Linked DNA regions of Homo sapiens. The protein of the gene in region 7 purifies or fractionates together with the protein of the main gene of each other region. This does not show direct contact. Each region holds a gene or a part of one and is shown on either strand. Other genes may lie near its edges. The genes, in order: MAB21L4, PLCXD1, CBR3, CLPTM1, GSTM1, EHD1 and CCR1.

Region 1 (4,368 bases), on a different chromosome or scaffold from region 7:
TGAGCGAGCATGGGGCCTGCCTTCCCACCATCCCACCGCCCCAGGGTCCTTCCGGAGGGAGCCTGGTCCTGGCTGTGTGGACCCCTCAGCCCCCACAATCTCCCGTGGGGCAGTTCTGGGGACGCCTCTGGGGCCCACCTCAGGGCAACCCTGGCCCTGCTGCCTGGGCGGCCCATCCCACAGGGGCCTCAGTTCCCATCAATGAAAGAGAAGGAGGGCCCCCCCATGCAGCACTTGAGGTGCCTGCCATTCAGAGCCGCCTCTAGTGGCCACACACCTCATCTGCCGTGGGCCACGCACGCTCACTGCCCGTGACCTGGCAGCTTGGAAGGCAGCTGCAACTGCACCAGCCCGGCCACAGGCCACAGCCCCGGGCTGGTCTCACCGGTTCCCAGGGTGGGGGCAGCCTGACCCCTGTCACCTAGGCTGCCACTTCCCCTTTAAGGTGAGTGTCAGGAAACGATGCCTGGAATCTCCCTGCATGCCCAGCCCAGCGCAGCTTCAGGGGCTGTGGGCGCGGCCTGCAGTATCGAGTCTGCTTTCTCAGGAGGCACTCTGGGGGCGTGAGGAGCCTGGCGGCTTAGAGCAAATCCGAATGACTCAGGGCCTGGCACGGCCTCCTGCTCACCCCAATGGGTGGGCCTGTCTCACAGGTGGGGACAGGGCCAAGTGAGGTCGGGAAGAAGATAGAAATACCCACCCCATGGCCTGCATGATTAGAGGTTCAGAAGATGCTGGAGCAGGAAGCCCGAGGGGCTGGGGGCAGGGTGAGGGCTGGCTGGGAGCACCAGAAGCTGACACCCCAGAGGTCAGGTCAGTCACTTACCCCAGGGCACTAGACAGGTCTGGGGAGGGCTTCTGTTAGAATCCACCCTCCTGGCCTCCCAGCATGCAGACTGGAGGCCTGGCTATGTGCGGCGGTGGCAGCACACCCTTCCCCAGAACCCACAGGAGGTGCCCCTGCCTCCAGGCAGGCCCCAGCGCCGGGCATCCCCAAGCAGATCATGGCCTCTCGCGAAGGTGAGCTGACCCCACCCGCTGACCTCACGGAGGACATGAGGGTCAGATGAATACTAGGGAGGTGACTCGAGGCAACAAAGCCCTGTGAGGACTGTGGTGACTCACATGTGACAAATTCTGTTCCAGTCCCCAGTTCCCTTCCAGGACAACCTGACCCCCTGGAGGATGGCTGTACCACTCAGGGTCCCCATCATCCTGGCCCCTGCACAGGCTGAGCCCTGTCCTCCCAGCGACCGTCGCCGTCCAGGCAGCCCCTGCTGAAGGAGCCCTGGGCTCAGACTCACCCTGGACCATATCAACAAGGCCCCAAAGGTGGGCCTGGTGCTGTGGCTCACACCTGTAATCCCAGCACTTTGAGAGGCCCAGGTGGGCGGATCATCTGAAGTCAGAAGTTCGAGACCAGCCTGGCCAACATGGTGAAACCCTGTCTCTACTAAAAATACAAAAATTAGCTAGGCGTGGTAGCCCATGCCTGTAATCCCAGCTACTCAGGATTCTGAGGCAGGAGAATCGCTTGAACCCAGGAGGCGGAGTGAGCCAAGATCGTGCCATTGCACTCCAGCCTGGGTGACAGAGTGAGACTCAGTCTCACAAACAAACAAACAAAAGGCCCCAGAGGAGAGACTGAGGCCAGCCCCTGGTCCACGCAGAAGCCCAGCCTCAGAGCCCACTTGGGGCTCAAGACACCAATAGACAACTCAGCCATAAGCTGATAAGACACGGGCACACACCTGCACACGCATTCACACCCCTGCACTCACGCGCACGCAGGCAGGCACACACACACCCCTCCCACCTGGTGCAACATCATCAGACACTGGAAGTGGGCACGGGATGGCCTCGGGGAGCCTCGAGGTCACAGGCTGTGACTGGCAAGAGAGCCGCCTGCCCAGAGCCGTGTGAGGGACCCTCCTGCAAGGCCACCAGTGAAGCAGCTGCCCCAGACTCCAGCCACTGGACGACTGGCAGCCGTGGAACCCCCGTGCAAACACACACGACACGGAACACGTCATCTGTCTTGTTACAGGCATTTGGAGCTGGAAGACCTAAGTGAGGTCTCCCGACTTCTGTGCCCCAACACACTGTTCACACTTGCACAGTGTCACACACGTGCACACATGCCTGTGCGTGCAGTCACACACAGAAGACAGTCGCCACCCTGTGTGCACGTACATGGCAATCACACACATGTGCACTCACACACTTGCACACAGACACCCACACAGCAGCCCCTCGGTACACGCAGATACGCGTGCAGAGTGGGCTGTGCCTGTACCTGGTGCGATGAGACTGTGGTGCTTGCAGTGTACGATGGCTGCTACCAGCAGGTCCTTGAGGACACACAGGACCTTGCTGGGCACAATGTGTCCACGGCACTTGGCGTCACCCTCCGAGGAGGCAGTGAAGGTATCCTCGGTGGTCCACCGCTCCAGGCCAGCCCCTTCCCTGGGCACACCCAGGTGGCATAATTCAAGGCCATCCTCCGGCTGGGTGGCCTCTGGTTCCTCAATCAGTAGAGCCTCGGCATCCACCCACAGGGGCACCTCCATGTCCATTGGGTCCTCAGAGGAGCGCAGGGCGAACTGGAAGGCCTCCAGGCCACGGGAGTAGTCCACGATGAAGCGGGGGTCCAGGGCATGCACGCGCTCCAGCACCGTGAGCAGCACGTTCTCTGCGCGCTGGAAGTCCTGGGCACGCGGCGCCTCCCGGGACCGGATGGCCTGCAGGTAGTGGTGCCACAGGGGCACCTGCACGGCCATGGCTGAGGTGGGGAGAGCAGGGGCAGGCATCCCTTCAACAGTGGCAGGTGAGGGCCAGTGGCCCCTGAGGAGGACTCCGCAGGCCAGCTGTGCAGATGGGCTGTGAGGAGGCACCTGCCCAGGTGAGCAGCAGGTCTGCAGGTGGGGCCTCAGCTCCCACACAGCAGAATTCCAGAGTGACAGCACAGTGTGGCAGGTGAAATAGCTGAACTATTTAAGGCCTTTGAAGTGGGGGTGAGTCAGTCCCCAGCAATTGGGAATGTCACAGGGGCCATGCAGGGCAGGCGGGGGCTGGGTTTGGTTACCACCCTCCTCCCTCCCTTCAGAAGAGCTCTCTCATCTTAGGCCCAAGGCACGGCCCCTGTCCCAGCCAGGCTTGGGGTCCCTGGAGAAATATTGCCGCTGGACTGTGCCGTCCCTGGGATGGGAGCCTCTGTGTGTTGCTGATGGGCCTCCTTCCACCCTCCTCCCCACAGCCCAGGGGCCGGGTATCTGGATCAGGCCCCCCTGCCCCAGCCTCCCTGCCAGGTTGGAGGGAACACAAGGCACCCCGTGGCTCAGTGAGGAAGGGGAGGCAGGGCGGTGGCTGCCCAGACCCCGCTGTGGGGGAGCCCCCGACTCTCTAAGGCTGCCTGGAAGGCTGGGAACCTGGAGGCTGCGTCTCTGCAATGTTCCCCTCAGACACCTGTGCCCGGCTTACAGGCTGCAGTCCTGGCATGGCTCCTGCCTCTGCCCCAGCTGTGCATCCAGCCATCTGGGCCCTGGACCCCTGGGCTACCAGTCCCCACCCCACCCCACCCCACCCTGCCCAGCCTCCAACCTGAGAGGAGCTGGCACCCACCTAGCCTGGGAGCTGGAGCTCGTCTGGTTCTGGAGAAAAGCAGTCTCCGTGGCTCCACCTCACCCAGGTGGAGAAACTCGCCCCACCATCCCCCTCCAGCACCTGCACCAGGTACCCTGCCAGCCCCGCCCCCCTCCCCTGCTCAGGGCCGTGCAAGTCCCAACCAGCAGGGAGCCGCCCCATCGACCCTTGGCCCTGCCAGCTGGCCGAGTGCATCGGGTGCTCAGCCACAGGGGTGTCTGCAAACAGTGAACATGGAGATGGCCCCACAGGGGCGTCGTGGAGATGCTGCCCCTGTAGCCACCGCACGTGGGCCTCTCACCCCCCGGGGAGCTGCATCTGAGTCAGAGCTGTGGGCAGAACCAGGATCCCAGGAGGGGTGGGGCAGGGGGCAACAGCCACTCACTTCCTGGTGCTTGGAAGCCCCTATGAGGGGCTGCAGCCCAGTGAGCGGGTCTCTGCTTCCATGCCTCCCAGGACAGGGAGCTCACCACCTCACAGGGTAGCCCACGGTCAAGCGAGAGACAGATATCCCTCCTCCAAGCTGGCCCACTCCTGTTCCCTGGAGTTGCTTAGAGCACGTGTCCCCCTCCCCGAGGGCAGCCATTCAGGTTCAAGGCCCCATTTGTCCTGGGCCCTCACCCACGGCCTGCCTAGGTCCCCACACACAGCCGTGTGCCACACTCCTCCATCTCCACAGGACTCTGGCCTGGGGGAGGTGGACGCTGCTGCAGGGCAGCTGGGGTC
Region 2 (3,715 bases), on a different chromosome or scaffold from region 7:
TTCCCAGCCGAGTTGTGCAATTTAAAATCGTGAATTTCGGTGCAGTGGCTCACGCCTGTAATCCCACCACTTTGGGAGGCCGAGGCAGGTGGATTAATTGAGATCAGGAGTTTGCGACCAGTCTGGTGAAACCCCATCTCTAGTAAAAATACAAAAAGATTTAGCTGGGCGTGGTTGTGTGCACCTGTAATCCCAGCTCCTCGGGAGGCTGAGGCAGGAGAATTGCTTGAACCCGGGGGCGGAGGCTGCCGTGAGCCGAAATCGCGCCACAGCACTCCAGCCTGGGCAACAGAGCGAGACTCCATCTTGGGAAAAAAAAAAAAAGGTAACTTTTTTGTACGTGAATTTCACCACAATTTTTGTAAAAAAGCCACCGACGGGGTGTGAGGTGCAGACAGCGTCGGCAGCCACGGCCCCGTGTCCTCCGGAGGCAGGAGCCTGAGGGAGGGAGGGAGGAAGGTCCTCCCCGCGGGGACGGTGGCAGGTGGGGCCGTCTCGGTCCTGCAGCCTGCGGCTGGGTTCTCTCAAGGTGATCTTCACGGCCGCGAGGGCTGCTTCCCACAGGGGCAGCATGAAACCCAGTCACGGGCCGGGCAAAGGAGCAGGTTTTTTCAACTTGGTCTCTTGCCCTCACACAGGAACGAGGTTTAGAGACTTCAGAAATGTCTTTTTTTTTTTTTTGAGGTGGAGTCTCACTCTTGTTGCCCCGGTCGGAGTGCAGTGGCGCGATCTCGGCTCACTGCAACCTCCGTCTCCCGGGTTCAAGCCATTCTCCTGCCTCAGCCTCCTGAGTAGCTGGGACTACAGGCGCCCGCCACCACACCCGGCTAATTTTTTTTTGTATTTTTAGTAGAGACAGGGTTTCACCATGTTGGTCGGGCTGGTCTCGAACTCCTGACCTCATGATCTGCCCGTCTCAGTCTCCCAAAGTGCTGGGATGACAGGCGTGAGCCACGGTGCCAGGCGGAAAATTTTTTTGTTTGTGTGTTTGTTTTTTGAGACAGAGTTTTGCTCTTGTTGCCCAGGCTAGAGTGCAATGGCGCAATCTTGGCTCACTGCAGCCTTCGCCTCCTGGGTTCGAGCAATTCTCCCGCCTCAGCCTCCCACCACGCCCGGCTAATTTTTATTTTTAGTAGAGATGGGGTTTCTCCATGTTGATCAGGCTGGTCTCGAACTCCCGACCTCAGGTGATCTGCCCGCCTTGGCCTCCCAAAGTGGTGGGATTACAGGCTTGAGCCACTGTGCCCGGCCTTTTTTTGTTTGTTTTGTTTTGTTTTTGAGACAGAGTCTTGCTCTGTCACCCAGGCTGGAGTGCAATGGCGTGATCTCGGCTCACTGCAACCTCCACCTCCTGGATTCAAGTGATTCTCCTGCCTCAGCCTCCCGAGTAGCTGGGATTACGGGCACGTACCACCATGCTGAGCTAATTTTTGGATGTGTTTTTACTAGAGAAAGGGTTTCAGCGTGTTGGTCAGGCTGGTCTTGAACTCCTGACCTCATGATCCACCGGCCTCAACCTCTCAACGTGCTGGGATGACAGGCATGAGCCACCGTGCCCAGCCTAGAAATACGTGTTAAAAACCACTGAGAGAACTTGGCCATAAACGTCTGTTGCCTTTGCCGTCTCTGGCTGTGGAATCAGTCCAGCTGGTCAACACAGGGGCACTGGAACCTACCTCTGGGGGAGCTTCTTCAAATATGGCTTGCAGGAGATTCCGGCTCAGCAGATGTAGGTGGAGCCCCCAAATTTGCATTTCTAACTATTGCAGGGACCCCACTTTGAGAATCACTGGTCAACGTCAACCCTCTCTATAAGCCTCATAAGAGATGGCACAGACTTAGTGCCCAAGACAACAGCATTCTTCCTGTCTATCACATGGGGGATAAGAATGTGGACAAGTTTGGGGCCATATTATTCTGTCTCCCACATGGGATTAGGACGTGGACATCTTTGGGGCCATTATCCTGTCTACCTCATGGGGATTAGGACGTGGACATCTTTGGGGACATTATTCTGTCTCCCACATGGGGATTAGGACGTGGACATCTTTGGGGCCATTATTCTGTCTATCACATGGGGATTAGGACGTGGACATCTTTGGGGACATTATTCTGTCTATCACATGGGGATTAGGACGTGGACATCTTTGGGGACATTATCCTGTCTATCACATGGGGATTAGGACGTGGACATCTTTGGGGACATTATTCTGTCTCCCACATGGGGATCAGGACGTGGACATCTTTGGGGACATTATTCTGTCTATCACATGGGGATTAGGACGTGGACATCTTTGGGGCCATTATTCTGTCTATCACATGGGGATTAGGACGTGGACATCTTTGGGGACATTATTCTGTCTATCACATGGGGATTAGGACGTGGACATCTTTGGGGACATTATTCTGTCTATCACATGGGGATCAGGACGTGGACATCTTTGGGGACATTATCCTGTCTATCACATGGGGATTAGGACGTGGACATCTTTGGGGCCATTATTCTGTCTCCCACATGGGGATTAGGACGTGGACATCTTTGGGGCCATTATTCTGTCTCCCACATGGGGATTAGGACGTGGACATCTTTGGGGACATTATTCTGTCTCCCACATGGGGATTAGGACGTGGACATCTTTGGGGCTGTTATTCTGTCTCCCACATGGGGATTAGGACGTGGACATCTTTGGGGACATTATTCTGTCTATCACATGGGGATTAGGACGTGGACATCTTTGGGGCTGTTATTCTGTCTCCCACATGGGGATTAGGACGTGGACATCTTTGGGGACATTATTCTGTCTATCACATGGGGATTAGGACGTGGACATCTTTGGGGACATTATTCTGTCTCCCACATGGGGATTAGGACGTGGACATCTTTGGGGCTGTTATTCTGTCTATCACATGGGGATTAGGACGTGGACATCTTTGGGGCCATTATTCTGTCTATCACATGGGGATTAGGACGTGGACATCTTTGGGGACATTATTCTGTCTATCACATGGGGATTAGGACGTGGACATCTTTGGGGACATTATTCTGTCTATCACATGGGGATTAGGACGTGGACATCTTTGGGGACATTATTCTGTCTATCACATGGGGATTAGGACGTGGACATCTTTGGGGACATTATTCTGTCTCCCACATGGGGATTAGGACGTGGACATCTTTGGGGACATTATTCTGTCTATCACATGGGGATTAGGACGTGGACATCTTTGGGGACATTATTCTGTCTATCACATGGGGATTAGGACGTGGACATCTTTGGGGACATTATTCTGTCTATCACATGGGGATTAGGACGTGGACATCTTTGGGGACATTATTCTGTCTCCCACATGGGGATTAGGACGTGGACATCTTTGGGGACATTATTCTGTCTATCACATGGGGATTAGGACGTGGACATCTTTGGGGACATTATTCTGTCTCCCACATGGGGATTAGGACGTGGACATCTTTGGGGCCATTATTCTGTCTATCACATGGGGATTAGGACGTGGACATCTTTGGGGACATTATTCTGTCTATCACATGGGGATTAGGACGTGGACATCTTTGGGGACATTATTCTGTCTATCACATGGGGATTAGGACGTGGACATCTTTGGGGACATTATTCTGTCTCCCACATGGGGATTAGGACGTGGACATCTTTGGGGACATTATTCTGTCTATCACATGGGGATTAGGACGTGGACATCT
Region 3 (4,159 bases), on a different chromosome or scaffold from region 7:
GACTGCAGCACTGCACTCCAGCCTGGGCGACAGAGAAGACCCTATTAAAAAAAAAAAAAAAAAAAAAAAAAACAGAAATAGAAAGCCTAAATAGCCCCATATCCTTAAAACAAGGTTCCAAATGATCTTTTTTTTTTTTTTTGAAAAGTCTCACTCTGTTGCACAGGTTGGAGTGCAGTGGTGCAATCTCGGTTTACTGCAACCTCCGCCTCCCGGGTTCAAGCAGTTCTCCTGCCTCAGCCTCCTAAGTAGCTGGGATTACAGGCACGTGCCACCACACCCAGGTAATTTTTGTATTTTTAGTAGAGATGGGGGTTTCACCATGTTGGTCAGGCTGGTCTTGAACTCCTGACCGCGTAATCCACCCGCCTCAGCCTCCCAAAGTGCTGGGATTACAGGTGTGAGCCACCGCGCCCGGACCAAATGATCTTTAGGAGAAAAAAGAAGGAAATACTGGGGGAGGCACAGTAGGAGATCACAGCAGGGGCCCACCTCCGGAACCTCAAGTAAGGACTTGAGAGAGAAGGTAGAGTCAGAGTAACAGAGACACAGGCGGGTTAGCCAGCTCTGCATGGAAAAGGCTGAGTCGTGATGATGTCATGGTTCTCCCCAAATCTCAAAGTCACTGATCAAACAACTCAGTTTACACTGAAGACGATGGATGAGACTCTAATTTTGTGCCCACAGCTTGACACACCTTTGGGAATTTGGTTTAACTTTCTTTGCCGGTACACAGATCTGTGAGAACATATGATCAATCCAGATCTTTATAGATCTATATCCTCCCTGGACAAACCTAAATGCAGACACTTTTAGCACCCGTAGGAGTTAGGTAGGATTAAATAAAAACATTCCCTCCCACTTGGGGGCACATTCACTGGGAATCCCAGAGCGATGTCGCCTGCCCACACCTGCTAAGTGCGCTCACAGGGCATCTAGTTCCCTCTCTTGAGTTCCTTTTAAGCAAGCAAGGCAACCTATGTCCAGAGAAGCAGTTACTGTGTCTAAGTAAGTCACTGCATCTTAGGAAAAAGCAAACATTCGCATTTTGCAGTGCATGATGGGCGCACACCCAAGAAAATTACTCAGCACTTGTTTTTCTCACTTTGGGGTTTTCCCAAAATAATTTCTTCAGTCCAGTTGCCAAGAATCTGGAGCCCCCGACTGACCCATCAAGGTCCGATTTGGCTTCGGACACCTCGCAGATCACCCCGCGGCTCAGAGCCCGGATCCTGAAGGGCGCAGCGTGGGCAGGGGGCGGGCCCGGGAGTTGGAACAGAGGGCACAGACGGCCCCTCCTCGGAGGGGAGGGACCGGAGCCGGGGCCTTTTTCTTTAAGACTCGCAGCACTGGATCCCAGAACTTAGTCTGCGCGGCGGCATTGACACTAGCTGGGCTCCTCGGGGCGCGCCCCAGGTGGTCCGAAGCCCGGTCCGCCCTCCACGCAGGTGCCCCGCGCTCCCCGCTCAGCCATGTCGTCCTGCAGCCGCGTGGCGCTGGTGACCGGGGCCAACAGGGGCATCGGCTTGGCCATCGCGCGCGAACTGTGCCGACAGTTCTCTGGGGATGTGGTGCTCACCGCGCGGGACGTGGCGCGGGGCCAGGCGGCCGTGCAGCAGCTGCAGGCGGAGGGCCTGAGCCCGCGCTTCCACCAACTGGACATCGACGACTTGCAGAGCATCCGCGCCCTGCGCGACTTCCTGCGCAAGGAGTACGGGGGGCTCAACGTACTGGTCAACAACGCGGCCGTCGCCTTCAAGAGTAGGTGCAGGGCTTGGGTTGGGGCCCCCTGGAGCGCTCCGAGGGTGCGGAGGTGGCCAGCCGCAGGCTCCCCACCCGTCCACTTGAGTGACCGAGGAGGGTGGCGCCGACCCCTAGGGATGCGCTCAGCCCACGCCTCCCGCGAGGCGGTTTTCGCTTTCCGTGATTCGCTGAGCCCCAGGCGGGCCCGGGCGACAAACAGCGCGCCCCGCCCGCCGGCCTGTGAGGGCCTGTGCGCGGCCCGGGGCCCTCCCCGAACTGTCAGCCGCTGTTGTGTGCAGGAAAACTGGCCTCCTGGGAGGGGGCAACGCCCTGCTAGAGTTCATCAGCTTTCCTTCCAACGCGAGAAACATTTTCTCTGCAAAGAAACGGTCTCCGCTCGCTTTGGGCTTTCGCTTTCCTTGAAAGGGCGCATTCATAGATGCCCGGAGGCATTTGCTCGGGAAAGGAAATGAATCGCTAAAACAGGATTAGCGCGCGCTTGCCCTTGGTGGACTTGACAATTTGTGTAATGCAGAGCTTTGATAGGCTCTGGCAAAAAGGAAGCGAGCCTTCTCGTTCCCCCACCCCCGCCCGGGGAGCTTATGTTTGTTATAAAATACGTGCGTGTGGTCTTAAAAGCATCTTCCTTAAGGAGAGGGGCGGGGATCAAGAGATTGCTTATTCTAACTACTACTGAAGAAAATTACAGGAGGGCGCAGTGGCTCACGCCTGTAATGCCAGCACTTTGGGAGGCCGAGGCAGGAGAAACGCTTGAACCTGGGAGGCAGTGAGCCGAGATCGCGCCACTGCACTCCAGACTGGGAGACAGAGCGAGACTCCGTATGAAAAAAAAAAAAAAGTTACTACGGAGAAATAAACAGGCCGGCTTCACCTCCAACCTAGTGGGGAAAAAAAGCCTAAGAGGGAGTGAAATGAAGGATGGGGGAGCAGAAGTCTCCACCCCTCCCTTTGGCCCTAGGCACTCCGCATTGTTGTGCATGGGGACCTGAGACTTTCTTTGACCCGCACGGGCAACTCAGCCTGCCGGCTTTCTGAGAGCTGGGGTGCAGGAGTGGGGATTAACACCCCCTAATGCAGCCCTCAGCCATGGGCTGAGAGATTGGTGGATAAATACCCGGCTTCCTGGACGACAGGCGGAGGGACTTCCCCTTGCCTTTCAAGGTATGGGGAATGGACCACCAGCAGCTGCAAACCTGGGCGCTCATGGCAAGGCAGAATCTCCCGCCTTGCCCCACACCTGCTGAATCAAAATCTGCGTTTCCGCTGGGCGCGGTGGCTCATGCCTGTAATCCCAGCACTTTGGGAGGCTGAGGCAGGCAGATAACCTGAGGTCAGGAGTTCAAGACCAGCCCGGGAAACATGGTGAAACACCAACTCTACTAAAAATACAAAAATTAGCTGGGCATGGTGGCTCACTCCTGTAATCCCAGCTACTCGGGAGGCTCAGGCACAAGAACCGCTTGAACCCAGGAGGCAGAGGTTGCAGGAAGAGGAGATTGCACCCCTGCACTGCAGCCTGGGCGACAGAGCGAGACTCTGCCTCAAAAAAAAAAAAAAAAAAAAAAAAAAATCTGCATTTCAACAGAATCCCCAGCTCCCTCCTACGCACCTTTAAGTTTAAGAAGTGGTAGTCAAAGCCAAGTGTTCTCAAGGTGTGGCTGGAGACCAGTAGCTGTCACATCATCTGGGAACCTAGAAATGCAAACTCAGGCCAGGTGCGATGGCTCACGCCTGTAATCCCAGCACTTTGGGAAGCCGAGGCGGGTGGATCACATGAGGTCAGGAGTTGGGGACCAGCCTGGCCAACATGGCGAAACCCTGTCTCTGCAAAAAGTAAAAAAATTAGCTGGGTGTGGTGGCATGTGCCTGTAATCCCAGCTACTCCAGAGGCTGAGGCAGGAGAATCACTTGAACCCAGGAGGTGGAGGTTGCAGTGAGCCGAGATCGCGCCACTGCACTCCAGCCTGGGTGACAGAGGAAGAAAAGAAAGAGAAAGAAAGAAAGAAAAGAAAAGAAAGAAAGGAAGGAAGGAAGGAAGGAAGGAAGGAAGGAAGGAAGGAAGGAAGGAAGGAAGGAAAGAAAATGCAAATTCTGGAGCCCTTACTCCAGCCCTTTGCAATCAGAAACTCCAATGGTGAGGCCCAGGAAGCTGTGTTTTAACAGGCTCTACAAGTGATTCGGATGCAGACTAAAGTTTGAGAATCACCGACCTCGTTCTTAAAAATTGTTTTAAAATTAACTTGTTTTTCCTTTAGTTGTTAGGAGTTAGGATCCACTTTGTCATGTGAGTTTCAGGGGGAAAAATATGACTTTCTTTTTGTTTCTTTCTCTTTTTGAAAGGTGATGATCCAATGCCCTTTGACATTAAAGCTGAGATGACACTGAAGACAAATTT
Region 4 (3,715 bases), on a different chromosome or scaffold from region 7:
AGCCTCCCGAGTAGCCGGGATTACAGGCATCCACCACCATGACCAGCAATTTTTGTATTTTTAGTAGAGACGGAGTTTAACCATGTTGGCCAGGCTGGTCTCAAATTCTAACCTCAAGTGATCCACCTGCCTCGGCCTCTCAAATTGCTGGGACTACAGGCTTGAGCCACCTGGCCAATCCTCATCATTTCTATGATTATTAAATCATTGGGGATCTTCCTCCTGTGTCCAGGGGGAGAAACCAACACTCAAGGGTTGACTTGGAGAAAATTCCAGGGGGACATGCCCCAATCGTGTCCACACCTGACAGAGACTGTCCAGGGAAGGGAGAGCCCCAGAGGGCAGCGCTGGCTGGTGGAGGGGGAGGCACAGGGGAGAGAGGCTTTGGCTCAGGCAAAGAACACATTCTGCAGCTTGGAGGCATCCAGACCAGATGGACCTGGCTCCTGTGGGGAGGAAAAAGCCCCCCTTTCTTGGAGGAAAATCTTCTAGAGCTGCACCATCCAGTATCAGGGTTGCTGGCCACATGCAGCTACTGGGCACTGCAAATATGGCTGGTCCAAACCAAGAAGTGCTATGATATAAAACACACGCTAGACCCTTTTTTTTTTTTTTGACATAGTCTCGCTCTGTCGCCCAGACTAGAGTGCAGTGGCACGATTTCAGCTCACTGCAACCTCTGCCTTCTGGGTTCAAGTGATTCTCCTGCCTCAGCCTCCCGAGTAGACGGAATTACAAGCGTTAGCCACCATGCCCGCCTAATTTTTGTATTTTTAGTATAGCTGGGGTTTCATTATGTTGGCCAGGCTGGTCTCAAACTCCTGGCCTCAAGTGATCCACCTGCCTCAACCTCCCAAAGTGCTGGGATTACAGATGTGAGCCACCGTGCCCAGTCACACACACTAGATTCTGAAAACTGACACAAGGGGAAACAAAAATGTAAAATATCTCACTTTTTATACTGATCATATGTTGAAACGAGAATATGTTGAGCTCAATTAAACTATTATTGATATTAATCTCATGGTTTTTCTTTACCTTTTTATTTATTTATTTGTGAGACAGGGTCTCCTTTTGTTATCCAGGCTAGAGTGCAGTGGTGTGATCACTGCAGCCTCAACCTCCTGGGCTTGGGTGATCCTCCTACCTCAGGCTCCCGAGTAGCTGGGATTACAGGCATGTGCCACCATGCCTGGCTAATTTTTGTATTTTTATTAGGGGGGGTTTTGCCATGTTGCCCAGGCTGGTCTCGAACTCCTAGGCTCAAGCAATCCTCTAGCCTTGGCCTCCCAAAGTGCTGGGATTACAGGTGTGAGCCATCACGGCCCTGGCCTTACCTTTTTATTATTTTATTTATATTTCTTTTTGAGACAGGGTCTCGCTTTGTTGCTCAGGCTGAAGTGCAGTGGCCTGATCACAGTTCACTGCAGCCTTGACCTCCTGGACTCAAATGATCCTTCTACCTGAGCCTCCTGAGTCGGAGGACACTACAGGTTGCGCACCACCATATCTGGCTAATTTAAAAAAATTTTTTGGCTCACGCCTGTAATCCCAACACTTTGGGAGGCCAAGGCAGGTGGGTCCCCTGAGGTCGGGAGTTCGAGACCAGCCTGACCAACATGGAGAAACCCTATCTCTACTATAAATACAAAATTAGCTGGGCGTGGTGACACATGACTGTAATCCCAGCTACTTGGGAGGCTGAGGCAGAATTGCTTGAACCTGGGAGGTGGAGGCTGTGGCGAGCCAAGATCATGCCACTGTACTCCAGCCTGGGCAACAAGAGTGAAACTCTGTCTCAAAAAAAAATAAAATAAAATAGGCCAGGCGCGCTGGCTCATGCCTGTAATCCCAGTGCTTTGGGAGGCCAAGGCGGGTGGATCACGAGGTCAGGAGATCAAGACCATCCTGGCTAACACGGTGAAACCTGGTCTCTACTAAAAATACAAAAAAACCATTAGCCGGGCGTGGTGGCGGGCGCCTGTAGTCCCAGCTACTCAGGAGGCTGAGGCAGGAGAATGGCGTGAACCCGGGAGGCAGAGCTTGCAGTGAGCCGAGACTGCACCACTGCACTCCAGCCTGGGCAACAGAGCAAGACTTCATCTCAAAAAAAAATAATAATAAATAAATAAAATGAAATAAAATAAATAAAATAAAATAAAATTTTTTTTTGTAGAGATGAGGTCTCCCTATGTTGCCAGGGCTGGCCTCAAACTCCTGGGCTCAAGCGATCCTCTGACTTTGGCCTCCCAAAGTGCTGGGACTACAGGCATGAGCCACCGTGCCTGGCCTCTCTTTACCTTTTTACTCTTTAGTATTTTTCTATTGGAAAAATTTTAATGCCTTCTCTGGCTCACATCCTATCTCCATGGGACGGAGCTGCTCTAGAATACTGATTATTGGCCTCTTGGGGATAAAAGGGGCTTTTCTTTTCTTTTTTTTTTTTTTTTTTTGAGATGGAGTCTTGCTCTGTCGCCCAGGCTAGAGTACAGTGGCACGATCTCGGCTCACTGCAATCTCCGCCTCCGGGGTCCAAAAGATTCTCCCACCTCAGCTTCCCGAGTAACTGGGATTACAGGCATGTGCCACCATGCCCAGCTAAGTTTTGTATTTTTAGTAGAGACAGGGTTTCACCATGTTGGCCAGGCTGGTCTCGAAGTCCTGACCTCAAGTGATCTGCTTGCCTTGGCTTCCCAAAGTGCTGGGTTTCCAGGCATGAGCCACCACAACCAGCCAAAAGGGGGCTTTTCTGAACTCACACTCTCCTTCACCCTGGAGTTTGTGGGTGGCTCACTCCAAGTCCTTCTATGTCCCTGCTTTGAGGGTCCCAGCTCCAAGGCTGGGGAGGGAGGCCTGGATGATCCTAGTATGCTTTTCAGGTTCACTGTCTGCAGGTTCTATTTTACAGACCAGACTGACTGTGAATAAACCTCACCACACAGTGACATGGATCACACTCACCAAAGACAAAACTGCAGAAAATACTGGCATCGATTTGGGTCAACGGGATGATTAGGTGATCGTCAAACGGGGTACAAGAATAGGGTGAAGAGCCACCCACCTGGGTCACCTTCAGAGCGACCTCTGAAACATCGGGCATTTTAGCCCAGACCCCTGACGTATCCCCCTGCAGGGAAACATCTGTGAGACCAACCCTGTAGGTCACACCCCCTCAAGCCACTTCTGCCTGGTTCTCCAAAGATCTCACCACATGGACGTCAGCCGGGTGGGACATACCAACGCAGCACATTCTTCAGACACACTCACTCAGAAAGGGGCTCAAGTAACTCCAGAAGACCTTTCCAAGTCATTTCTAGGGACCCACATAGAGTCAACTTTTCATTTCATCCAGTATAGGTGATAAAAAAAAATTACCATCCTTTAGGATATTTTTGTACTAAAAGAAGTAGGTAAGACCTAACTCATACAAATAGAATTCTGTCTGTTGCTGCGCCACCCAAAACCAGCCAGATGGATCTTAACCAAATCCACAGGGAATGTCTGGAATAGTCCTCAATAAAGTGAAAGCTAGGTGGAGTACACAGAACTCCCGTTAGAAGAATGGGGGGCTTTCTGAGGAAGCCATTCTCCAGCTCCGCTCAAACAGGTACAGCAAGAGATTTCTACGGCTGCCCATCAGGAGACAGAGGACTCAGGGAAAAAGCTCACAGAGAACCAAGCAAGGCTGGGTGTGGCAGCTCACACCTGTAATCCC
Region 5 (4,368 bases), on a different chromosome or scaffold from region 7:
TTCACACAATAGGTATAATGTGCTGGGCACGGTTCGTGGCATGAAACCAGTACTCAATACATGCGAGTTATTCTGTGTGTAGCTCCAGGACTGGGAAAACATCTGAAAGGAGGTAACGGAACAAGGGGCATCAAAGAGAAAGGAGGATGGGGGCATCACCTCAAAGCGGGAGATGAAGTCCTTCAGATTTGGGAAGGCGTCCAAGCACTTGGGCTCAAATATACGGTGGAGGTCAAGGACATCATAGACGAGAAAATCTACAAAAGTGATCTGCAGAAGGCCAAGAATATGTGGGCTGGAACCTCCATAACACGTGAAGCAAAACAGATCTCATTCCCCATATCACTCCTCCTTTACCTTGTTTCCTGCAAACCATGGCCGCTTCCCCAGAAACTCTGAGTAGAGCTTTAGCTTTTCAGGGAGTTCCTCCAAGTACTTTGGCTTCAGTTTCTCCTGAGGCAGAAAACAGCTGTCACCACCCTCGGACAAAAGCTCCCTGCACAGACGTGGCCTCCCCGGGGCTGTGGACGGCCCAGGCTGGCCATGGGCAAGCAGCCATCTTCCCCAAGCTGGAACTGGGGCAGTGCCCAGGCTTCAATTGGATACATCAGCATTTATTAGACTCTGACTGAGTGCCAGACCCTATCTAAACTGATCAGAAGGCAGAGAGGAATGAGATGCTGTCCCTGAATCTGTCCTCACTGACCTCCCAATAGCCTCTGGGTCAGCCCCAGGAGCGCCCAAGCACCTGGCAGCCTCTGGATCCAGACCAGCAGAATCAAGGATGCAAAGAACTAAGGGAGCTCAGGGAAAGTAGAAAGTTCCTTCTAATGGGGTGGCAGAAGAAAACAATGAACATTGACTAGTTTCCAGGGAGATGAGAAGTTCAAGTTGAAAGGAAGGAGGGAGAGGAATAAAGGCCCTCTGACTGCCTCTGAGCTGTCTGTTATGAAAATGCGCAGATCCCTGTGCATGTCAATGACAGCACTCAGAAAACTGTTGAGGAGAAGATGCAATTCGAGGGTGCCATTACATTCCTGAGTCTTCTACTTGAGTCTGCATATTCTAGGAGCAGGCAGGTGATGTGAACTGGCTGACAGAAATGACCCAGGACAGAAGTCAGAGGCCAGAGCTGATGAAGGAGATTCTGAACACAAACTTTACCATACAGGAACTGAATTTCTACCCTGGGATGCCTGGATCGTGTCCTAAGGTTGGTGGGAATTGCCTCTGCTTTTGTTGACATGACATTGGAGTCGTGAGAATAACTGCTGATAGTATGGGAAAGCACTTGGAGGATGAATGGTACCAGGGACTTAAGACCAGTGTGTGCAGGAATGCAAGAGTCCTGGCCCCAAATCCAAACTCTGTCAGATGCAGCTCACTGGGGACACTCACAAATTCTGGATTGTAGCAGATCATGCCCAGCTGCATATGGTTGTCCATGGTCTGGTTCTCCAAAATGTCCACACGAATCTTCTCCTCTTCTGTCTCCCCACCTGCCACCCACAAAACACAGACTCAATCTCAGCATCACAGCCCAGCCAAGGAGGAGGCCACCTTCCCCCCACACATTGCAGCCACCCACACTCACACAGGTTGTGCTTGCGGGCAATGTAGCACAAGATGGCGTTGCTCTGGGTGATCTTGTGAGCCCCATCAATCAAGTAGGGCAGCTGGATGGATGGGAAACCGGCGAAGCTCAGTTGGGCCACCAGGCTCCCCAGCATCCCCTTCCCATAAGCAAGAGCAGAGAGGAGACCGGGCACTCACTGTGCCTGCTCATGGCAGGACTGAAATAAGAATACTGTCACATGAACGAATGCAGGTGGACACAGAACATCATGGAAGGACTGTTTAGACAGCCAGGAGTGAGAGGAATTGGGCAGAAGACTCCTGATCTTAACACCTCTAAGCTGGGGAGAGGAGATGCAGTCAGAGACACGTTGCACTTTCCCCCAAAACCGCCCCTTCCCCTGCACCTACATTGGGAAAGTCCAGGCCCAGCTTGAATTTTTCATTCAGCCACTGGCTTCTGTCATAATCAGGAGCTGTGGTGGGGAAGAAGAAGTGAAAACAAACCTCCCCAGAGCCCAGCCCTCCTTCCCGGGGACCCTCCCACGGAGCCAGTGGCAAGATCCCTGAGACAGGTGGATCTAGAATCTGACCACTCAGTCCCACATCCCAGGGTTCAGGGACAAAGAATCCCGCTGAGGGCTCTGGACCCCACACAGCTAAGGCTTCCAGGGTTTAGGCAAGCCCTGAGGGACACCCGTCCCAATTAGACAGGGGGCCCAGCATCCCACCCCAGCATTCTGCCTTGCAAGGCCAGAGGGCTCCCTCACCGGGGCTCAGGGAAGAGACAGCCTGCAGCTCCAGCAGGGGAGGCCTGCAGAGGCAGCCACAGGTGGCCACCATGGGTTGCTTGGTGCCAACTTAGCGTGAGTGGGCAGAGCCCGAACACGAGGGTGCCATTACCGTCCCCCATCGTGTACTTCTTTTCCTCATAGCTTGAGTCTGTGTATTCCAGGAGCAGGCGGATGGCGTGGGCCAGCTGGGAGAGATGGCCCGCAGGTCGCGTCAGAGATGGAGGGTCCCTGACTTTGTCTGCACCAGGGAAGCCCCCAGTTTACACTGCACGTACCCGTTGCCTCCTCTACCCGCCCACACCCCCAACACACACACAGCGGCATGCACAGGCCCTTCTGAGGCGGGCAGCCCTGAAGAGGAACGGTCCCTAGAGTCCGTCCCGCAGCTGCTTCGCACTTCCCTCCCCTGCGCCCTCGTCCCACCGTCCAGCGGACCCTCGCTCACCCCGCGGATGTCCCAGTACCCCAGTATCATGGGCATGGTGCTGGTTGGTGCGGATTCCGCAGACAGGCCTAAACCGAGCAGGGCTCAGAGTATAAGAGCTCCGGAGAGGGGACAGGCGGGGCCTTGCTGCGACCCCGCCCCTCGGCCCGCCACAACCCGAAAGGCGCCATTCTGGAGGCCCGGGAGAGGGCGCCTGGGGCTGCACTCAGTAAGACTTCCTCCCGCCTCCCAGGCCCGAGGGTTCCGGGAGCGAAGTCAGGGCGCCCAGAAGCCCAAGGCGGGGCTCGGCCTCGCCAGCTTCCCTACCCAGCCCTGAGGCTCCACGAGTCCATCCAGCCCTTGCTAGGTCCACAGCGACTTGGCTGTGCGCTTGAGACACCAGCCAGATCCTAACGGAGCAAAGCTCTTCTCCCTTCTCCTCCCTGCCCGCGGTGTCCCTCAGCCTTCTCTCCGCTGCCGAGTTCCCAAGGGCTCTGGGAGACTCCGGCTGCAGGGGTCAGACTAAAAAGTGGTGGCCCCAACCTGGGAATTTAATTCAGCCCCTGTCACTGTAAGAGCAGGACTTCCTCTGATCCGAAAGCTACTCCCAGGGCTTAGTCTCCCCTCTAGCCCCGCCTACACAGGAACAGTGTCAGTGGTATAGGAAGGACCCCCAGGAAAAGGGCCAGAGTAAAGGAAATGTGGTCTGTGTTTTCTGTTAGGGGCCCTCGGGTACTGAGTCCTTCGGTCATCTGGCTAAGTACTGTGTAAATTAGCCACTTCGTATTTTGGCACAATTTATGAATCGAAATCCAAGGATCAGATCCAGCAAGTTGGTGAGGTATCTGAGGTGCCCCCTAGAAATGTCCAGCCAGTCCACTAGGTGAACCTCACAGAGACCGGAACAGCAACAGCAACAGTGAGTGCAGTGGCCACAGAGAGCAGGCGAGGGAGGATGGAAGAACTTCCCGGACCAAACTGAGGGTCCGGCTGCTATTTCTCTAGGCCCAATAACGAGATGCAGATCAAATGGGGAGGAAGAGAGGTTTTATTTCTGCAACCGGTAACAGGGAGAAGGCCTAGAAATTACCACCAGACCAACTCAATATTACAAAGTTTTCCAGAGCATATATACCTTCTAAGGTATATGTCTACAAGTAAGTGTGCATTCATCTAAAGACATAAGTGATTAACTTCTTTAATCTGTAACTGAGGTCTGGGTCCTGAGGACCTTATTCTGGAGCCTCAGTCTATTTATTTAATCTAAATGGGTCCAGGTGCGGGGGATGATTACCCTTATCTTGTCTCCTGCTAAATCACGGAGGTTTGGGGAGTTCCTTCAGACGCCCAATAAACTTGTTTGTGGAGGCCTGGGGAGTTTCTTCAGACTCACAATAAAACTTGTTTAATTCTAAATAGGTCCTGTTAAGAATTCCTTCATTGTTTTGTCATGCTTTAAGGCCCAGGAAAGGCCTAAGCAAAACTCTTGGTGGGCTTTTGTTACATCCAGCCTCTGTATAAAGGTACTGGCTTTTTTCAGCTTTTAATATTTAACTTCACCACTCAGTCAGTACT
Region 6 (3,695 bases), on a different chromosome or scaffold from region 7:
GGTGGTGGGCAAGGACAAGCCCACCTACGACGAGATCTTCTACACGCTGTCCCCTGTCAACGGCAAGATCACGGGCGCCAACGCCAAGAAGGAGATGGTGAAGTCCAAGCTCCCCAACACCGTGCTAGGGAAGATCTGGAAGCTGGCCGACGTGGACAAGGACGGGCTGCTGGACGACGAGGAGTTCGCGCTGGCCAACCACCTCATCAAGGTCAAGCTGGAGGGCCACGAGCTGCCCGCCGACCTGCCCCCGCACCTGGTGCCGCCCTCCAAGCGCAGACATGAGTGATGGCGCCCGGCCCCGCACCTGCCATTTGCACGCCCGGCCGGGAGGCAGAGACGGGGGGAGGGGAAGCCTCACCATTTCTCAAGGTCCATAAAGACTGAGCGGATGTTTCCTCGCCTCTCGAAAAGGAAAACCACCATCTTTCTTTTAAGGCTGTTCCTGGGCCTGGCGGGGGAGGCAGGGGTGAGAGGATGGAATTGTGTGCACAAGAACTGTGGCTATTTTAATATATAACGTTAGAGGCTGCGTTCTTTGTCGCCGCCTCCCCTGTGTGCCAGCCCTGTGTGCACGGCCTCTGCCCCCCGGCCTTTGCTGTGGCTGGAGCTGGACAGTGCAGCGACTGCGACCGTGGGGGAGCCAGGTCGCCCTTTTGGCAGCTGCTAGGCTGAGGCTGCATGGACAGGAACACCAGGCACCCTCCGTGTGCTTCTGAGCTGAGGTTGCTTCACGGGACCGTGGCTTCCTTCCTCACCTGGCTCTGCCTCCCCCGTGCTCTCGGGCGAAGTGGGTTCTTGTGCCTTCCCCTCCCGGGCCCAGGCTCCCCGTGCGCGGGCCCTGCCCTTTCCTCCCGCGCCCCACCGGCTCCGACGCGCAACCCCGCTCAGCAGTCACAGAAGCAGGGCCCAGCCACCTTGGTCTTTTTTTGGGAGTTCAGGGGAGTAGGAGAATGTCTTCCAGAAAAATACATAAGCTAGTTTCTGTTCTGTAAAGTGATATCTTTCATACTTGACCAAAGTTCCCAATAACTTCCCAACCACTGTTCAAAAGCTGTGATTTTTGTCTCCCCTTCCCACCCTCCAGCCAAGGAGCAGCCCTGCCCAGGGGGCATTAGGTGTGGGTACCCGGGGAGCACCCCGTTCCTGGACCCCAGTGTTGCATTTCCTGGCTGAGGAAGGGTGGTCATCCCAGCTCCTGCCCTACCCTCTCACTTAACTGGAGCTTTGGGACGCACCCTCCACAGTGGGAGGTGGTGGTGGGTGGCGGTGGCGGGGCCTCACGACAGCTTGGTGCTGGTAAGAGGAAGCCCGTGGTTCTGGCTAGGCTCTCATGTCCAGACAGCGGGGACCAGGGGAAAACCCAGCCCCTTCTGTAATCCCCCTTCATTTCCTACCTTCCTTCCTCCTCTGTTTAGCAAAGGAGGGCAGCTCACTTGGATGTCCTTACAACGCCCCTGGCCCCCAGGTTGAGCAATAAGAAACCAGAACCTTGCGGCCCAGTGGCCCGGGCCAGTTCAGGCCGCCTCCCCCTCCTCTGCCTGGGGCCATTGAGCCCAGCCTCCAGGGCCCGGGCGCGTTTGCAGGCCAGTGGCCACTGTCCGGGCTGTGATGGCACCAAGGCAGGTGGAGCACCAGGTACCACACAGCTGGGCTTCCCACCAGGCTTTCCCGCGGGGGTCTCAGGGAGCTTCTCCCCAGCGCTGCTCGGAGTCTGCAGGAACTGGCCTTGTTCTCCTTAGCCCGTCACTCCATACAGTATTAGGTGAGGATGGATGCGGGCGCTGTCCTTGCCGGGAAGTCACTGTTGAAGTTGCAGTGGCTTGTTCACACCTGTGGGAAGAGAAGTGAAGACTTTCTCCTTGCATTAAAAAGTCTGAACTGTGCGAAAGCTTCGGGTGCTTCCTTGTCTTTTCCAGGGGCAGCAGTCCTGGGCCATCCTCCCCTGGTGTCTGAGGGGGTGATGCCAGCAGGGACAGAGTGGCAAGGCAGCCGGGGCAAGGTGACCAACCCTGCCCAGTCCTGCTCTGCTGGGCAGTAGCTGCCCCCTCCTACTAAGAGGGCCAGGCCTGTAGGGAAAAGGGTTTCTGGGGTGATGCCCCCTTCCCTGAGCAAGGTGGGAGCTGAGCAGTTCACTTGGGGTGGGGAGGGGGGAAACAGTTGGGAGGATGTTGATAGCTGAGGCCTAGGCTGGCACCCCTCAGCCACAGACGGATGAGTGGGCACCTGCAGGCCCTCGGCACTGGGTGGCATCAAGTAAACAAGGGTTTCTGGGCTTTGGAGCCAGACTGGCTCCTTGCTAGCCCCAAGGACGGTTTAAGTACAGGGAAGCCGGGCCTCTGAAGACAAAGCAGATAGCCTGTGACAAACATGCAACTAAGGGTGGGGCCAGTCAGGCCCAGGTGATGTCACAGATGGGGGACTGTTTATACCAGCAGAGGGAAGGGTGACTGATTAGTGACCCTTCATAAAAGGGTGCAGACTTGAGGTGCCATGGGTAGAGGCTGCTCCAGCCCCTCTGGCAGAAGGCAGGACAGAAACAAGTTCCTGAGGGTTTCAGGGACCCAGTTGTGTGCTCCGAGCCTAGCTGGTGTGGTGGTGTCTGGTCCTATGACCAGCACTTGAGGTGCCAGTGGATGCTTCAGTTGCTGCAGGGCTGGCCGGCCCTCCCTGCGTCACTCAGCTGCCACCTGTGGGCATTCACCCTGTGCCAGGTGGAGCTGCGCTGTCACGATCTGAGGAAGTTCATGTTCCCCCATTTCACAGAGGGAGAGTCCGAGACTGAGGACTGCCGAAATAACAAAGGTGGTAGAAGCAGATGCAAACCAGGCCGTCCAACTCCAGCGTGCTTTCCATCAGGTTACTAATCCAAAGCACACACTAAGAGGAAAAAACGGTAGATCCCCCCAACCCCACCCTTAGACTGCAGCTGTACTCAGGGCTGAGAGACCCACATTAAAGGTTAAATGCTGTCACTCCAGCCTGGGGTCCTGAAAGCTTGGGGCAGGGGTCACCCAAGGGAGGTGGAGCATTTTTGTTCAAGCTGTGAGCACATTAGAGAAGGCACAGAACTTAGCAGTGCCCCTGAACTAGGAGGAAGGGAAGTGCTGCCTGGCCGCCCGCTCTCCTTCCCGGAGCACTCCACCTGCAGGGCTCTGTGTGGCCACAGAGGGGCTGTGAACCCCCTGGGGCTGCCCCAGGAAGCGCCTGCTGATCTGAGGCTTGAAAGGGGCTGAGGGCAGGTGTCTGCCCCAGAGTTCATAGCCCTGGTTTCGGTTCTACAGGTTGGGGATCATCTTTGGGCTCCGACCGGGGTTCAGGGAGGACCAGAGGATGTGGTCAGAGATGTGGCCGCCCACCTAGAGGGCTAGTCCCAGCCCTCGCCTCCTCCCTAGATCCATAGCTGGCCATGACCCTGGGGAAGAAGCCTCCTCTTCAGAGGCTGGCCTGGGGCAAAGGAGGGGCATTGCCACCCAGCTACCAGAGCCCGTGGACTGAGGCCTTCAGGGCAATCTGTCGCCCACGCAGCACCTCACAGCCCAGGACCCAAGAGGCAAAGGGCCCGCCCACTGCCTCTGGCCATGCACAGCTGTTTTCTATGTTGCAGTTCCTTGTAAGATCTCATTCAGAATAAACATTTCTGGCTGGGTTTGGTTCACACCTATAATCCCAGCACTTTGGGAGACCAAGGTTGG
Region 7 (4,036 bases):
GTTCTCTTTGGAAACTGATCCACCAGCAAAGTACTGCAAATAGCCAGGCACATGCAGACCCCCATTTATTTCTTTGGGGTGAAGCTGAGTGATGATCAGATGTCAAGCTTAGGCCATCTTGTCTGAATTCTTCATTTTACAGATAAGAAAACTGAACCATGAAGAGACAAGTGATCTTTTCAAAGCACATTCACACTGATGATTTCTGAAACAGTGCTTTGTAGCAATGCCGTGAGGAAGGTTAGGGGTGTCCCCACTTTATAGAAGACACAAGGGCAGAGGCAGAGTAGGTGTTGGCAGTTGTGAGGAGAGTCACAGTACTCATCATTTGTCAGACATTTTTCACTGTGCCAGGCACTCTGACATTTTTCATGTACAAGTTGACTTCGTGCTTCTCCTCTGAGGTAAGCATTCAATACTCCCATTTAGCAGAGTAGGAACCAAGACTTAGAAAGGTGAGTGATCTGCCCATGTCACAGGTGGAGAGCTGGGATTTGAACTTGGCCCATGTTTGACCATCACGTAAAACAGGAATGGGGCATCAGAAAGGGAAGGTCAAAATGTAACCAACAGACCTATATTCCCTTCATGCTGGAGGTTCCTGGGGCAAAGCCACTCTCTGAGGTTTGGTGGGGAGGGACTTGGGGAGCAGAGAGCAGAGGGACAATGAGCTCCCAGAAGCCGAGGGGCATAGGGTGCCAAAGAGAAGCTGCTGCCTCTGTGAGCACCCATGTCAGTTAGTTTTGAGGAACAGGACTCAGGGTTCCAGTTTAAATCCTTCCATTCACAATCTTTAAGAAGAAGAAAAAAAAGAAGTCTGCCGCTGACCACAAGAGCTCTATGCCCTGCCCCCATCCCACATACACACATCCCACACTTCAATTGCTCCAAACATTCTGGGAACATCTCACTGCCACCCACCTCACCCAACTCAGCTTCACCTGCCCCCAATTCCCTTAAGGCTGAGCTCCCAGGGCCAAGACTCAAGAGGCTCAGAGTGAGCAGAGAAAATCCTCGCAGTTAACTTGGCTTCCAGGAAGTGGCCACTGGTGGGCGTTGTGGCCATTCATGAGCACCAAACCACACAAAAAGAAGAACTTTGTCCCTTTCTTGTCATTTTGAAAGACTGTGAAACTGGAGCCAATTCTCCATCATCACACAGGAAGCTGAGTACTTCCTACTTGGTCAGGATCTTGAAACTTGAATTCATAAAAACCCAGAAAGCCCCAGAAACAAAGACTTCACGGACAAAGTCCCTTGGAACCAGAGTAAGTGTCACTTGTCTTTTCTGTCTTATCTGTTACTGTGGAGGGCAGTGTTGTTCAAAGACATGCATGCAGCTAGGGGCTCCTCAAAGGTAGGGGGAATTCTTTGAGTAGGCTGGGCAAATGTCTAAGTAGCCCATGGATGCATCTCCAAGGCAATTAATACTGTAGCAATACTGAGAATGGTGGATTTATAAAGCTGGGTGCTCAGATGAAATATAGGCTTTTTTGCTAAAAAGGAAGCTTACTTGAAGGATTGGCTTTTGGTTACTGATTAAGAAAGTCAGTCAGTACTAAGGGACAAAAGGTGTTTTCTGTGGAAACCTATTCAATAAGAAATTACTTGGCGGGGCGCAGTGGCTCACGGCTGTAATCCCAGCACTTTGGGAGACCGAGGCAGGTGGATCATGAGGTCAAGAGATGGAGACAATCCTGGCCATATGGTGAAACCCTGTCTCTACTAAAAATAAAAATTAGCCGGGCATGGTGGCGCATGCCTGTAGTCCCAGCTACTCAAGAGGCTGAGGCAGGAGAATCACTCGAATCCGGGAGGTGGAGGTTGCAGTGAGCTGAGATTGCACCACTACACTCCAGCCTGGCGACAGAGCAAGAGTCTGTCTGAAAAAAAAAAAAAAATTGCTTGCCAAATTCCCCCATGTAAAGGAAAACCAAACATGGTGTATGAAGAAATTATAGCAAGAGGGAAATATTAGCTAGAAAAATCTTGGCAGATGCAAGGATGATTTGATACTGAACCTATCTCTTAAGAAGACTAGAACCAAGGATCCTCAAAATTGGCACTGCTATCTTTGGAAGAGGTAGGCTTTCACTCACCCAAAGGCAAGGAGCTGGCCAGGTGATCTTGGGGGGCATCTGTTCTGCTCTACTAACAAAGACACAGGTCAGGATTTTGTTCTGAAGATAGAGGGGCATGGTGGCTCCGTATAGGTATCTACTTCATAGGTGGTCTTGGTGGGTCCCAGATTTCAAAGAAGAGATGGAAACTCCCAAAAGTTTGCACAACCTGGCACCAGGCTATGTGCCACTCACTGATCCTTTAGTTCCCGCACCGAGCAGTGGGACAGTGCTGGACTGTTCAGAATGTGGGGCCTGGGCAGTGATGTGCTGGTAAATGTTCAACAACTGACTCTTCTGAAGAAAAGATCCCTGCTTTATAACATTTGTTGATTTTCATGGTATAAATGCCCCCACTGTGGTCAGTTTCAAGCTACCAACATGCTGAATGTGGAGTGGGGAAGAGATGCACGCAATTGGCATTTATAAACCAGTATAAGCCAGCCAGCGCACCATAGGCCTGGGTGTCTTTCACCATCACAGACTGCTCTATCTCTGCTCAGAGACTTCACCAACTCCCAGGCTGGAGGACACTAGCAGTGGAGGGTCCAGGATCCAGGGCTATAGCTGACCACTGTGCAGTGGCCTTGAGGCAGACTTCTGCAGTAGACTACAGCAGGGCTGGCAGATTAGATGACAACATGGTCCTTTGGTTTCTCTTCTCGGGCCCCACCCCAGATCACCTCCCTTTAGGAACAGCATGCCTTGGAGTGGTTGCCTGGGGCTTAACAAGTTGGGGAAATAACAAATGGGTTGGAGGTAGGGGGTGTATGGAGGTGACTCGGTTTAAAATGCCACCTGACAATGTTGACTCAACTTGCCTTTGCCTTTGCCAAACCTTCCCAGAAACTGGACTCATGGGATCAGGCTTGCACTAGCTGCTCTTTGTGCTTTCCAAGCTATTTGCATACTTCCACTGTTAACCTGCCAGCCCACCGAAAAGTGCTGACTATCAAACCGAACTGTCTGCCCTCATCAGCAATGGCTGTGGCTGCAGAAATTAGAAACTGCCAACACAGCTTTGTTAGTGACCGTTAGCCTGACTCTCTCCAGAAAGAGGGCTGATTGGATCTCTCTGGAGATGGAGGAGTGGGCCAGGGGATGGGTTTGATAAAAAATTAAAGCTCCTCACTTCTCACCCTAATAGAGTATCTCCCTTTCCAGCCAGGGTGCCCTATACCCTCCATGTGCCTTAATTTCCTTTACAATGGCTATTGAAAAAAATGTGAATTGTGTAAGCAGGAAACATTCCTTAAGGAGAGTAGAAGGAAGAACACCAGAGACCCAGGTTTAAGATAGAAATTATAAAGTAGGTGCCACCTACTTTACTGATTGGCATTTGGGTCAAATCAATTTAGATTGGCGGCAATAGATTGACAATTTCAAATGTCATTCACATGGAAGGGACCATCATTGTCCACCGTTATCAAGAAAAATCACTTTCTAGATTAACTACAAAGAAATTTGGCAGGGGGGTGGGAGACAGGGTATACCAGCCAGCCAGGGACATCCTGGACATTGGTGCCTGGGATGTGCTGGTGGTGTCAGGCCTCAGGGAAGGGCTCCTGCAGTGAAGGAGTTCTCTCAGGGAAGGTCCCCAAGAAAAGTGCCCTGGCCTGGCTCTTGCCAGGCCCTCAATAAGGGGCCTGGCTGTTGCCAGGTGGTGGTGGTGGGAGGGTGATGGTAGCACTTTTCTCATACATTACCTCACAGTAGCCTTGCAAGATAAGAGTTGCTTTCCCACATTACAGATGAGGAATGAAGCTCAGAGAGGTAAAATAATTTATCCAAAGTCACAAAGCTCGTAGGTTACACCAAAGCCAATGCTCCATTTGGGGAGGCATCTTTAATAAGCAACTGGAAAGGATTCAAGTGCCAAAAAAGCAGGGACTGGGAGAAGTCCTACAAAGGCAACC

What was found.
Region 1: the proteins of CCR1 (region 7) and MAB21L4 purify together in Homo sapiens (affinity purification with mass spectrometry; one large-scale study listed by BioGRID and IntAct). This does not show direct contact.
Region 2: the proteins of CCR1 (region 7) and PLCXD1 purify together in Homo sapiens (affinity purification with mass spectrometry; one large-scale study listed by BioGRID and IntAct). This does not show direct contact.
Region 3: the proteins of CCR1 (region 7) and CBR3 purify together in Homo sapiens (affinity purification with mass spectrometry; one large-scale study listed by BioGRID and IntAct). This does not show direct contact.
Region 4: the proteins of CCR1 (region 7) and CLPTM1 purify together in Homo sapiens (affinity purification with mass spectrometry; one large-scale study listed by BioGRID and IntAct). This does not show direct contact.
Region 5: the proteins of CCR1 (region 7) and GSTM1 purify together in Homo sapiens (affinity purification with mass spectrometry; one large-scale study listed by BioGRID and IntAct). This does not show direct contact.
Region 6: the proteins of CCR1 (region 7) and EHD1 purify together in Homo sapiens (affinity purification with mass spectrometry; one large-scale study listed by BioGRID and IntAct). This does not show direct contact.

The regions. Positions count from the first base shown.
Region 1 is NC_000002.12:240,893,188-240,897,555, forward strand, and holds the start of MAB21L4 (protein mab-21-like 4), read right to left. Parts: upstream 2,970-4,368; 5' UTR 2,811-2,969; coding exon 2,297-2,810; intron 1-2,296.
Region 2 is NC_000023.11:294,861-298,575, forward strand, and holds part of PLCXD1 (PI-PLC X domain-containing protein 1), read left to right. Parts: intron 1-3,715.
Region 3 is NC_000021.9:36,133,721-36,137,879, forward strand, and holds the start of CBR3 (carbonyl reductase [NADPH] 3), read left to right. Parts: upstream 1-1,358; 5' UTR 1,359-1,472; coding exon 1,473-1,761; intron 1,762-4,104; coding exon 4,105-4,159. UniProt on the Homo sapiens protein: Catalyzes the NADPH-dependent reduction of carbonyl compounds to their corresponding alcohols. Has low NADPH-dependent oxidoreductase activity.
Region 4 is NC_000019.10:44,979,247-44,982,961, reverse strand, and holds part of CLPTM1 (putative lipid scramblase CLPTM1), read right to left. Parts: intron 1-3,715. UniProt on the Homo sapiens protein: Involved in GABAergic but not glutamatergic transmission. Binds and traps GABAA receptors in the endoplasmic reticulum (ER).
Region 5 is NC_000001.11:109,686,356-109,690,723, reverse strand, and holds the start of GSTM1 (glutathione S-transferase Mu 1), read right to left. Parts: upstream 2,908-4,368; 5' UTR 2,851-2,907; coding exon 2,815-2,850; intron 2,608-2,814; exon of another isoform or gene 2,555-2,607; coding exon 2,479-2,554; intron 2,052-2,478; coding exon 1,987-2,051; intron 1,677-1,986; coding exon 1,595-1,676; intron 1,500-1,594; coding exon 1,399-1,499; intron 454-1,398; coding exon 358-453; intron 271-357; coding exon 160-270; intron 1-159. UniProt on the Homo sapiens protein: Conjugation of reduced glutathione to a wide number of exogenous and endogenous hydrophobic electrophiles. Involved in the formation of glutathione conjugates of both prostaglandin A2 (PGA2) and prostaglandin J2 (PGJ2).
Region 6 is NC_000011.10:64,850,927-64,854,621, reverse strand, and holds the end of EHD1 (EH domain-containing protein 1), read left to right. Parts: coding exon 1-289; 3' UTR 290-2,980; downstream 2,981-3,695. UniProt on the Homo sapiens protein: ATP- and membrane-binding protein that controls membrane reorganization/tubulation upon ATP hydrolysis. In vitro causes vesiculation of endocytic membranes. Acts in early endocytic membrane fusion and membrane trafficking of recycling endosomes.
Region 7 is NC_000003.12:46,205,514-46,209,549, reverse strand, and holds the start of CCR1 (C-C chemokine receptor type 1), read left to right. Parts: upstream 1-1,236; 5' UTR 1,237-1,268; intron 1,269-4,036. UniProt on the Homo sapiens protein: Chemokine receptor that plays a crucial role in regulating immune cell migration, inflammation, and immune responses.